3 linked regions of the Homo sapiens genome follow. The protein of the gene in region 1 purifies or fractionates together with the protein of each later gene. This does not show direct contact. Each region holds a gene or a part of one and is shown in the gene's direction. Other genes may lie near its edges.

The links.
Region 2: the proteins of ENOPH1 (region 1) and TOR2A purify together in Homo sapiens (affinity purification with mass spectrometry, with the first as the bait; one large-scale study listed by BioGRID). This does not show direct contact.
Region 3: the proteins of ENOPH1 (region 1) and CBS fractionate together in Homo sapiens (co-fractionation; one large-scale study listed by BioGRID). This does not show direct contact.

What each region holds. Positions count from the first base shown.
Region 1 is NC_000004.12:82,451,016-82,454,730, forward strand, and holds part of ENOPH1 (enolase-phosphatase E1), read left to right. Parts: intron 1-27; coding exon 28-230; intron 231-3,706; coding exon 3,707-3,715. UniProt on the Homo sapiens protein: Bifunctional enzyme that catalyzes the enolization of 2,3-diketo-5-methylthiopentyl-1-phosphate (DK-MTP-1-P) into the intermediate 2-hydroxy-3-keto-5-methylthiopentenyl-1-phosphate (HK-MTPenyl-1-P), which is then dephosphorylated to form the acireductone 1,2-dihydroxy-3-keto-5-methylthiopentene (DHK-MTPene).
Region 2 is NC_000009.12:127,732,495-127,736,496, reverse strand, and holds the start of TOR2A (prosalusin isoform a precursor), read left to right. Parts: upstream 1-1,202; 5' UTR 1,203-1,226; coding exon 1,227-1,377; intron 1,378-1,932; coding exon 1,933-2,198; intron 2,199-2,936; coding exon 2,937-3,112; coding exon of another isoform or gene 3,113-3,281; exon of another isoform or gene 3,282-3,723; coding exon of another isoform or gene 3,724-3,805; coding exon 3,806-3,933; exon of another isoform or gene 3,934-4,002. UniProt on the Homo sapiens protein: Salusins -alpha and -beta may be endocrine and/or paracrine factors able to increase intracellular calcium concentrations and induce cell mitogenesis. Salusins may also be potent hypotensive peptides.
Region 3 is NC_000021.9:43,065,831-43,069,545, reverse strand, and holds part of CBS (cystathionine beta-synthase), read left to right. Parts: intron 1-930; coding exon 931-1,037; intron 1,038-1,141; exon of another isoform or gene 1,142-1,489; coding exon of another isoform or gene 1,490-1,768; exon of another isoform or gene 1,769-2,912; coding exon of another isoform or gene 2,913-3,021; intron 3,022-3,168; coding exon 3,169-3,303; intron 3,304-3,715. UniProt on the Homo sapiens protein: Hydro-lyase catalyzing the first step of the transsulfuration pathway, where the hydroxyl group of L-serine is displaced by L-homocysteine in a beta-replacement reaction to form L-cystathionine, the precursor of L-cysteine.

The sequences.
Region 1 (3,715 bases):
AAACATCATGTTGTTTCTGACTTAAAGGCTGAAGAGGACGCCCACCTGGATGGGGCTGTTCCTATCCCTGCAGCATCTGGGAATGGAGTGGATGATCTGCAACAGATGATCCAGGCCGTGGTAGATAATGTGTGCTGGCAGATGTCCCTGGATCGAAAGACCACTGCACTCAAACAGCTGCAGGGCCACATGTGGAGGGCGGCATTCACAGCTGGGCGCATGAAAGCAGAGTATGTGCTTGAGTCAGCCTAAACATTTCACCAGTCCCAAATCCAAATATGTTTTTTCACCAGTCCTCTCTTTCCAGCGTAAGTCACAAGACTGGTAAAACAGATAAAAATCCACACTCTTTTTAGTCTAACAAGTGAGCTTTGTTTCATTTTTTCAAAACTTGGCTAAAATATTTCAGCTGACTAGATTACCCGGACCTGCCAGTCTGGTCTTGTGGGTTGATTGAAGGACTTGTCAAAGTCTCCGTTTAAAATAGCTTCCTAGAAAATGGTGACTTCCTTGAACTAAGTCATATTTGATTCTTAGCACATGAGTGACAGCTCCGTTGGGCTGCTTGCCTGGACTGTTAATTACCTGCTTTTTGCTCTATGAGACATAGGAAATTTTGTGCCCCACCGTGTTGAGGTTACTCAGAGGATGTCCGCACTACCACGTTCTTCTTTGCTCTTTTGAGCAACTTCCACAGATTCTTTGAGTCTTGGTTATGGAGTTCCTAATAGCACTCCTGCCTGAGGAGACTTTTGAGTATTATACTTACTGAGAAATTCTTGATTGATTCAGACAGGGTCCTACTCTGTTGGCTGGAGTGCAGTGGCATGATCATGGCTCACTGCAGCCTTGACCTCCCCTAGTTCAGGTGATCCTCCCACCTCAGCCTACCGAGTAGCTGGGACTAGGCATGTGCCACCATGCCCAGCTAGTTTTTGTATTTTTAGTACAGATGGGGTTCTACCATGTTGCCCAGGCTAGTCTCAAACTTCTGGGCTTGAGCGATCTGCCTGCCTTGGACTCCCAAAATGCTGGGGTTACAGGCGTAAGTCACAATACCTGGCCTATTTTTTTTTTTTTAGAGCTGGGGTCTTGCTCTGTGATCCACACTGGAGTGCAGTGGTGCCATCATAGCTCACTGTAGCCTTCAAGTGAACCTCCCGCCTCAGCCTCCTCATTAGCTGGGACCACAGGCACGCACCACCACACCTGGCTATTCAAAAAACATTTTTGTAGAGGTGTGGTCTTGCTATGTTGTCCATACCATATTGCTGATAAATTCTTTTCGTTTGTTTGTTTCTGTTTTTGCTTTGAGACCGAGTCTTGCTCTTTGCCCAGGCTGGAGTGCAGTGGCGCAATCTCAGCTCACTGCAACTTCTACCTCCTGGGTTCAAGCGATTCTCCTGCCTCAGCCTCTGGAGTAGCCGCCTGCCACTATGCTAATTTTTGTATTTTTAGTAGACATGGGGTTTCACCATATTGGCCAGGCTGGTCTTGAACTCCTGACCTCAAGTGGTCCACCCCATCTCAGCCTCCCAAACTGCTAGGATTACAGGTATGAGCCACCCCTCCCGGCCTATTTTTGTTTTTGGAGATAGTCTCACTCTGTTGTCCAGGATGGAGTGCATTCACACAATCTTAGCTCACTGCAACCTCCGCCCTCTGGGTTCAAGCAATTCTTGTACCTCAGCCTCCCAAACAGCGGGGACTACAGGTGCGTGCCACCACACCTGGCTAATTTTTTGTATTTTAGTAGAGACAGGGTTTTATCATGTTGTCCAGGCTGGTCTTAAGCTCCTGAGCTCAGGGCAGTCCACCTACCTTGGCCTCCCAAAGTGCTAGGATTACAGGCGTGAGCCACTGTGCCAGGCCTGCTGAGAAATTCTTTTTTTTTTTTTTTTTTTGAGACGGAGTCTTGCTCTGTCACCCAGGCTGGAGTGCAGTGGCGTGATCTCAGCTCGCTGCAAGCTCCGCCTCCTGGGTTCACGCCATTCTCCTGCCTCAGCCTCCCGAGTAGCTGGGACTACAGGCGTGTGCCACCACGCCCGGCTAATTTTTTGTATTTTTAGTAGAGACAGTGTTTCACCGTGTTAGCCAGGATGCTCTCGATCTCCTGACCTTGTGATCCGCCCCCCCTTGGCCTCCCAAAGTGCTGGGATTACAGGTGTGAGCCACTGCACCTGGGTGTGAAATTCTTAAGGATTTTAGGCCATTGCCTGCTGTAAACCCTAGGATCCAAGATTGTTTCCAGCTGCATATATTTCTTTTGTGTTTCTGTCAAATGAGATGTTGTTTCTTTATTTATGTACTTTACGAGGAGCTTCTACCTTTTAAAGGATGGACTGGAATTTCAGGATATGCCAGTGATCTGGGAATATCAGCCAGGTTCACTTTGTAAAGCACTCAAAAAAGTGGAGACAGGAGACTGTGCACCCGGTAGTTAGCCCATACTTCTCTTGGTCTTGGTTCCTTAATTATACAACTAACTGCTGAAGACAGGAAAAATCCTGTCTCCATGAGTGCAAACTAGTACTCAGAATAACATACTTACATGTGTACTGGTTTTGAATACGTTGATCTCTTTCCTTCAATTAGTGCAACATGTTAAGCATGTTAATACATATAAAGCGGAAGACTCCACTGACATTTTCCAGGTAATCTTTTAGAGATGACTGGTTCTACAACCCAAGTTCTTTGTGCTTCTCTTTTCACCTTTCTCCTGTGATGTTAATTTCCTCCATGACTATGGAAAACACTAGAATTGGTAAGAGAGACTGAGTGTCAGAAGTCAGAAAAAGACATCTTTTGCTGACTGGTTAATGTGAGTTGGTACAAGTCTCAACTGACTTGTTATGTAATTTTTTCCCCATATAATAAAACATTGTTTTCTTAGTTCTCAAAAAATGCAGGCCGGGTGCAGTGGCTCATGCCTGTAATCCCAGCACTTTGGGAGGCTGAAGTGGGGGGATCACTTGAGTCCAGGAGTTTGAGACCAGCCTGGGTGACATGGCAAAGCACCATCTCTACAAAAAATTAAAAAAAAAAAAAAAAAGCTGGGGGTGGTAGCACATGCTTGTAGTCCCAACTACCTGGGAGGCTGAGGTGGGAGGATCACTCGAGCCCAGGAGGTAGAGGTTGCAGTGAGCTGAGATCATGCCACTGCACTCCAGCCTAGGCAACAGAGCAAGACCCTGTCTCAAAAAAAAGTAATTCCATTTTCTAGCTAATCATAAGTTTATAGCTTTGAGCCTTCAAACTTTGTTTTGATTATTTTGGGTGCAGATCTTTCTAAAAGCATTTCCATGCTTTCTTAAAGCACAGTGGACATAATTTAACCTTTTCTTGTCATGAAGAACATCAAAGATTATATTATATCATTGCTGTTGTTTGCTTTTTTGAGTTCTTCGGGAATTTAAAAAACACTTTCCCATTTCATCCTTTTATCTGTAGTCCCTTTTTACTGTCACTAGTGGCTGTCTGTTCAAAACTATCCTCCTTTCCACATAGATTGTTGCTTCTAATCTGCTGTGAGCCTGGAACTTGGGCAGTATGTTTATTAGAACTGCAGGAGTTTGTAGTCTCAGGGAGCTGCTTCTCAGGTTACCATGTGGGCACAAAGAGAGAAACATATGGCATCTGTTTTGACAGGTTTTTATCTGGCTAGATGAGGTGTTCCTGTATTTTAACTTAGTGGTCTTCCCTCTAGGTTCTTTGC
Region 2 (4,002 bases), on another chromosome or scaffold:
TCCTGCCTTAGCCTCCAGAGTAGCCAGGATTACGGGAGCCTGCCACCACGCCCGGCTAATTTTCGTATTTGTAGTAGAGACGGGGTTTCGCCATGTTGATTCACGCGCCTCGGCCTCCCAAAGTGCTGGGATTACAGGCATGAGCCACCGCACCTGGCCGGAAATACTTATTTCTTTTTCAGGCTCTGATATTTGGCCCCAGAAGTCGTGTGTGTGTGTGTGTGTGTGTGTGTGTGTGACTATGTGTTGAGGTTGGTAGGGACAGGGTCTTTGAGGTGGGCCATGAAGGCTGTTGTCTTGGTTCCCTTACTCCAGTGGGTGGGGGAGGTGGGCAACGTGGATCAAAACGAATCCAGGCCAAGCTGGAGGCCTAGGGAGCCTGCGCGCTGAACCTCAAACGTCTGGAGTCCTTTGCCTTCTGAATCCTTTGACCAAGAGAGGCTGATAACATGCAACCACGCACTACGGCTCTGGTTGCAGCCAGACTTGGGTTTAGTTCTATTGTTTACCAGCTGCGTGACATTGGGTAAGAGGCTTAACCTCTTCGGTCCCAAATTCCTCCTTATTAAGATGGGGACAACAACAGAACCCATCTCCCAGGACTGATACCAAGCATTTGGCCACAGTTGCTGCTAGGTGAGGGACAGTCCTGTTTAATACACAACGGAATGTTGATGATCATGTATTGACCACTTTCTGAGCCAGACAATTTGTGTGCCTTTATCTCATTGGAACACCACCATTTCTCTGGATAGCAGATACTATTACCATATTATAAGGTATATAGGCACTTAGCACTAATGGCACAGAGTAAGTGCTCACCAAAAGCTGTTAGTGAGGGCACTTTTGTCATATAGAAGAAAAAAGGAGCATGGAAAAGGCGCTTTGCAAGGTGTAAGGTTCCGCACAAGTTTTTGCTGTAATTGTTACGTCGCCCTTTGTGGTCGTGATCCTTTATTTATTCTTTCTGAGCCACTACGATGGTCCCCTAGTTACCGTGGCCATGGAAACGCGGCCCGCCGTCCCGGATTGGACGGTTCGCGGGTTCCCCCTGGAGGCCACCTTCTGGTCCTGCTGCGGAACGACGGGCGGGCCTTGGAGGCGGGGAGAGGAGCGTCGGGAGTTGTAGGCGATGGGCGTGGCTGCTGCGGAGCGGTGCACGCCGGGAGTTGCAGTTCCCGGGCGAGGCAGTTGACTGCCCCACAACGAGCTCGGGCCTCACCCGGATGGCGGCTGCGACGCGCGGCTGCCGGCCCTGGGGCTCGCTCCTCGGGCTGCTCGGGCTGGTCTCGGCCGCGGCCGCCGCCTGGGACCTGGCTTCCCTGCGCTGCACCTTGGGCGCCTTTTGCGAATGCGACTTCCGGCCCGACTTGCCGGGTGAGGCGCCAGGGAGCCCGGAGCGAGGGGCGGGCGGACGCGGGCAGACGCGGGAGCGCTGGGAGCCCTGGGAGCCCGGCTGGCGCCGGCCAGAGAAGCTGAGGACCCAGAGGGTGGGACCGAGGGGCGGGGCCCGCAGACTTGGGAGGGTGGAGGGTACCCGTTGAGGTCCAGGAGGCCCTGCCAACCTGGAGAGAGGCCTCAGCCAGCAGAACCCTTGGTGGAAGTTCTTGGGCCTCCCCGGAATGGCCTGGCCGTCAAAGGAGAAGTGCAGTGCGCCTTGGGGATGGGCGGGGTCTGCGGCTGACCCCGTTGACAGCTCGCATTTAGAGCTGAGTGCAATCTAGAGGACCGCCTGGTGGGGGCGCTGCCGAGCTGAATCAGGCCCGAAGGTGGCTCTTTTCCGCCACAGACCCCAAGGTTTGCGTGCCATGTGCATAGGCAGCTTGGACAAACGTAAGGACACAGGAGTCCCAGACCAGGTTCCAGACATGATGTTCTCCTTGAACCTCTGCCTCGGTGGGATGTGTCCTCACCATCCTCCTGTGGCCCTAGGTCTGGAGTGTGACCTGGCTCAGCACCTGGCCGGCCAGCATCTGGCCAAGGCGCTGGTGGTGAAGGCGCTGAAGGCCTTTGTGCGGGACCCAGCCCCCACCAAGCCGCTGGTCCTCTCCCTGCACGGCTGGACCGGCACCGGCAAATCCTATGTCAGCTCCCTGCTGGCGCACTACCTCTTCCAGGGCGGCCTCCGCAGCCCCCGCGTGCACCACTTTTCTCCCGTCCTCCACTTCCCCCACCCCAGCCACATCGAGCGCTACAAGGTAGGCTGGATGCGTCCTTGACCACTGTTCTCACCATGGGGTGCCACCCTAGGGAGTAAGTCCTGAGCCCAGACAGGGGAGTCACCTGCTCCAGGCCACACACGGCTGCAGCCCCAGCCCTCAGGACCCATCCTGCACAGAACTTGGGAAGGTGTCATTCTACCTGGCAGGGAGTACTTTGATTCCTTGGGGCAGTAAGGAACCCTGGCAGTACCTACATGCCAGGGTTGTTGTGAGGGACATGAGATTATACCATTGCAGATATCATTTATGGAGCACCTATGTTTGTCAGATAATCTGCACTGTTGTCTTGCTGGAAATCAGCCCCAATTTGTGGCTCAGAGGAAGCATCAGGAAATATTGGCTCTTACTACTACTGTTGTTGATTGCAGGGTACCCACCAGGCTGATCAGTTTCAGCCGTCAACACTGCTGTGTAGTTTCAGGGAGCAGGAAGGAGCCTTCCCCTTTTATAGAAAGCAGCAAGTGTCGTGGAAGGAGCTCTGAACAGGGAAGTGGGAGGCTTGGGTTTGAGTCCCTGTTCTGACTGGCTGTGTGACTTTGGGCAAGTCTCTGCCCCAATCTGGGATACAGTTTCACCATCAGTCTCACTAAGAGGTTGGTGCTCTCTGGAAGACCACATCCTTCCCTAGAAAGGAGATTAGTTTTGGTTTGGGAAGAGGTCTGGTGTTGGGGGAGTTTCTCCAGCTCCCCTGGAACTCCTGTCTCTCCCCTACAGAAGGATCTGAAGAGCTGGGTCCAAGGGAACCTCACTGCCTGTGGCCGCTCCCTCTTCCTCTTCGATGAGATGGACAAGATGCCCCCAGGCCTGATGGAAGTCCTGCGGCCTTTCCTGGGCTCCTCCTGGGTGGTATACGGGACCAATTACCGCAAAGCCATCTTCATCTTCATCAGGTGGGGCCCGGCTTTGCAGTGGGCACAGTGGGGGGGCCACTTCTCAGAGGTTCAGCTCTACAGCCTTAGCCTGTGCTCCCAGCAGAATCCAGTTCCCCATGGGCTTAGCTGGGCTTTCCCAGTGCCCTCCGCCACTCTCAGAGATGACATTGTCATTCCGCCTGGTTGATTTCCCTTTGGACATTCTCAGCAAATTCTGGGCTCAGTCTTTTTGATCGCCACTTCTTTGTGGAAGCCCTGCCAGGTCAAGAAGTTTTCCCTCTTTTGTGGTGAGGAGGACACAGGCCTGGGAAAAATAGGAACAGAGTTCTTGTCCTTTAGTCCCAGCTCTCAGAATCCTCGCTGTGTTTCCTCAGGCAGCATGGCTCCGCCTCTCTGAGCCTCTGTCTCTGCTTCTGAACAGCGGGGCCAATAATGATGCCCCGATGCCTTCCTGGAAGTTCAGTGAGGGAAAGTCAGTTGAGGGACACAAAAGTGTTTTGTAAACTATAAAGTACGTGGCATGTGTAGGTGAATTACAGGGGCCATGGATGTGGACACCATGGAGGGGGAAGTGGAGCGTTTTCAGTGGAGTTGGCTCCTCCCCGCACTGAGCCATGTTCCTATGTCAGGTGGCAGCGGGGAAGCGAGGGTCCAATCCTGCCCTGCGCTAGTCCTCATCTGAGTCTCAGCCTGGGTCCCCCATGGTTTTAGCAACACGGGTGGCAAGCAGATCAACCAGGTGGCATTGGAGGCGTGGCGCAGCCGGCGGGACCGCGAGGAGATCCTCCTGCAGGAGCTGGAGCCGGTCATCTCCCGCGCGGTGCTGGACAACCCGCACCGTGAGTCTGGCTCAGCAGCCCCCTCCCGGGCAGCTTCACCCCACACCCAGGGGCCAGGCTCTCCCGGGG
Region 3 (3,715 bases), on another chromosome or scaffold:
TTCAGCAGGTGACTGTGCTGAAGAGGGGGCCCAGGGTTAGCCACGGGGTGTCATCGGAGCTGCAAGGCCCAGGGAGGGGTTGCGGGTCTGGAGACCGCTGTAAGCCATGCGTGTTCCCAGATGAGTATGTGGTGAGCTTGGTGCAGATAGATAGGGGGTGTCATCAGCATCTCCCTGGGGGAGGATGGCAGGGGCATGAGGGCCATTTAGGAAACCACCTGGACCAGGGTTTGAGGGTTTACACAGCCAGATGCTGCAGGGCAGGGCATCACGAGCCTGGCCGACAGCGCCTCTGCCGGGGCTCTGAGTCTGCCACGTGCCTGACATTTTCTGTGCAGGGCTAGACATCCCGCCTGCGCTTTGCAGCCATTGTCCCTGGTCTAAGGAGTCTCTGCCCTGACACTTTTTTGCTTCCTATGGTCACATGCTGAGAGATGAAAGGAAATGTCATCTCCAGTAAAGCCTTTCTGAAAAGGTGGACCTAAACCTTTGTTTTGGAGTCAGTATTTGCTTATTTTAACTTTTTTATTTGGAAATAATTTACTACTCACAATAAGTGGCAAAAATAATAGATCCTTTGTACCCTTCTCCCAGCTTCCCACTAACAACATCTGCCACGACTGTAGGTTCATTTTCAAACCTGGGAAGCTGGCATTGGTGCAAATAAACCACAGGCATGATTTGCTTTTTATAGATTTGTATGTCTAAGCATGTGTGTGTATGTGTGTTTCAGGCGTGTGTGTGGGATGTGTGTTAGGTGTATCTGTGTACAGATTTGTGTAACCACCACCCAGATAAAGCCAGTTCTTTTTTTTTTTTTTTTTTTTTTTTTCCAGTTCTTCGAGTGTTGATTTGTGTAAGACAATGTCTGCCAGGGCTGGTACTATTTTTTTTTTTTTTCCTGAATAATTGTGGACTCCTCTGTTTCAGGGCAAAATCTCCAAAAATCTTGCCAGATATTCTGAAGAAAATCGGGGACACCCCTATGGTCAGAATCAACAAGATTGGGAAGAAGTTCGGCCTGAAGTGTGAGCTCTGTGAGTGCCCTGGCTTTGGAGAGGGGCTTCCTCCATCTACACTGGGCTCCGTGGGCCTGGGGGGTCCTGGGGGGTCCTGGGATGGATCCCTTAGGCAAGGCCCTGGGATCAGAAAACTCGCTGGTTAATGAGTGGCCAAGAACATATCAGCTTAAGTTTGGGAAAAACACACAACAGGGCATTGTGTCAGAGGGTGACCAAAGTGACTCCCCAGCAGATGGACCAGGGAACGAACAGGTGACCTTTGAACTGAGGCCGGAGTGGAAGCAGCGAGGGTGTGAAGGGCCGGGTGAGGGTCAAAGGCAGAAGCAAGCAGGTGGGGAGGGTTAGCGTCATGCCTGCTAAGGAGCAGTGGACGGGTCCTAGCACGTGCTGTGAGCCACCCGCTGTCCAGGGAGCGGTTACCTCTGTCTTGCCAGCTTCGTGGGGACAGATAGTTCAGCTCATCATTTATGAGACAGAGAATGGGAATTTGGAGGGTCTGTGGCTGGCCTCGTCCTGGGTGCGCAGGGGGTCACCTGAGGTGTGGTCTGAGGCCTCCGGGGAAGGGCATTTCTTTGCAGGACGCAGTTTCCAGGCTCAAGAACGTGGAGGGAATTCCTAAGGGTCGCTCTTCACCAAGAGCGCAGAGCCCTGGTAGACCTCAGCATCGTCACAGAGAAAGCTGTGGGTGCAGAGGCCTTGGGGACAAGGCGGGGACGGAATTTCGTATTTCAGATGACCAAGGCCAAGTGAGTTCGGAGGGAGGCAGGAAGGGTGCCGCGGAGAACCCCGCGACAGGGCCAGATGGAGGGGGTGGAGTTCGAGTGGGAAGGAGAGGGAACCAGTAACATGGCTTGGGACTTTTTCATCCTGAGATGCTCTAATGTCCCAGCCGGGGGACCTGTGAGAGCTGGGGCAGGCGCTGGGGGAAGGAAGTCAGGGGTCGGTGCGTTGGGAACCGATCGCCGATTCACAGGAGGGGCCTCGTGGGAGCCTGGCCCTCCTCTGCCCCCCTCTAGGGAAGGAGATCTCGGAGCTGCAGCAGAGCAGCCCCCTTCACAGAGACCCCCAAGGCAGCAGGGCCGGCTCTGTGCTCATTTGTCAGACAATAGGGACCCTTAACTCGTACGCAGCACGCGTGGCTGGCTCACTGTGCTCCGTACAGGATGACGTCTAAACTTGGTGGTTGCCCTTGAAGTAGGTTTTGGAATGCCCGTTTTACAGACAGACACACCGAGGGTCAGGTTGGTCACGTGGCTTGCCGGAGGCCACCAGCTCTGATTTCTGCTTCGGAGCTGGCCCCCAGGCGCTAGTGAGAATGATCTAACTGAGGGTTTCACAGTATGGGACCCAGAGGGGTCCGAGAATGCAGGCCTGTAGAGGGCCAGACCCCGAGAGTCCTCCCCACCACACACAGCGCCTCGTCCTGGTTCTAGGGGCAACACCTGTCTGGTGGTTGCTTTCAGAAATTTTGAGGTGCTGCAGGCTGGTCCCAGGTCCCTCAAATCACATTTCATGCAGCCCAGTCTCTCGCTCTTAAAAACTAAATATTTTTAAGAGCTGGAGAGGGAGAGAGGACTTGCAGTAAGGAAGGAAGTGCAAGTGAAGGCCTTGGCCTTGTGCGGGAACCGCGCAGGGAGCCCTTCCCCGGGCAGGTGACGCCCCACAGGGGGAGGAGGACAATGGGAGGCTGTAGGGAGAGTATGCGAGTCCCCATCCGATGGGGAAGCCAGTGCTGTGGCTTCAGGACATCAAGCTGCTTTGGCAGGGGCCGCTGGGTATGGCTGGGCATAGGGGCGTAGGGGACCCAAATCCAGGCGCCTGCCCGCCACAAGCCCAGCTCGTGGGTGGGGGGACGGGGTTTTCTGCGGCGCCCCCCAGTGAGGGCTGCTTATGCCTCTCTGGTTCCCACAGAGTTGCTCAGCGCCCTGCAGGACCGGTAGGATGGGCTGCAGGGGGAGAAGCTCTGATAGGCTAGTGCCCAGGTGCAGGTGTAGGGGAGGTGAGTGGAGAGGTGGCAATTTTTCAGAACCCACAGACCCCCAAGCCCGTCCCCCACCCTGGGGTGTATCAGGTAATGGGGGGGTGAGCAGGAATCAATGGGGGGGTGGTCAGGGGGTCCCCTCTGTGATTCATCTCTGCCTCCCAGTGGCCAAGTGTGAGTTCTTCAACGCGGGCGGGAGCGTGAAGGACCGCATCAGCCTGCGGATGATTGAGGATGCTGAGCGCGACGGGACGCTGAAGCCCGGGGACACGATTATCGAGCCGACATCCGGGAACACCGGTGGGTGCCAGGCCCAGAGGGGGTGGCCAGGGCTGGCTGTCCCCTACCCATGCCGAGCCTGCCGGGACCCGGGGGGGATGGCTGAGCTGCAGCCGCATGTGCTGGCCCGCCTGGCCGCCTGCTCCCTGGCATCTTGCACCCGCTGCCGGCCTGTGTCCCAACCTAGCTTCCTTTGACCAGCATTCGGGGCCAGTGCCGATGCTCTCGGGGCGATGGCACCTGGCAGTGCCTGGCACACAAGACGAGCACCCGGAGTCTGCTCTTCCTGTGCCTGTGTACCCGGCTGGGCCTGGAGGAACCAGATCTCCTGTCCTGCGCCGCTGCCTCCTCCTCCTTGACGTGTACCTTTTATTTCTGCCTCTGGCAGCCTCTCTCCCCCTGCACTTGAAGGCAGAAGCAGCCATGTTGGGCA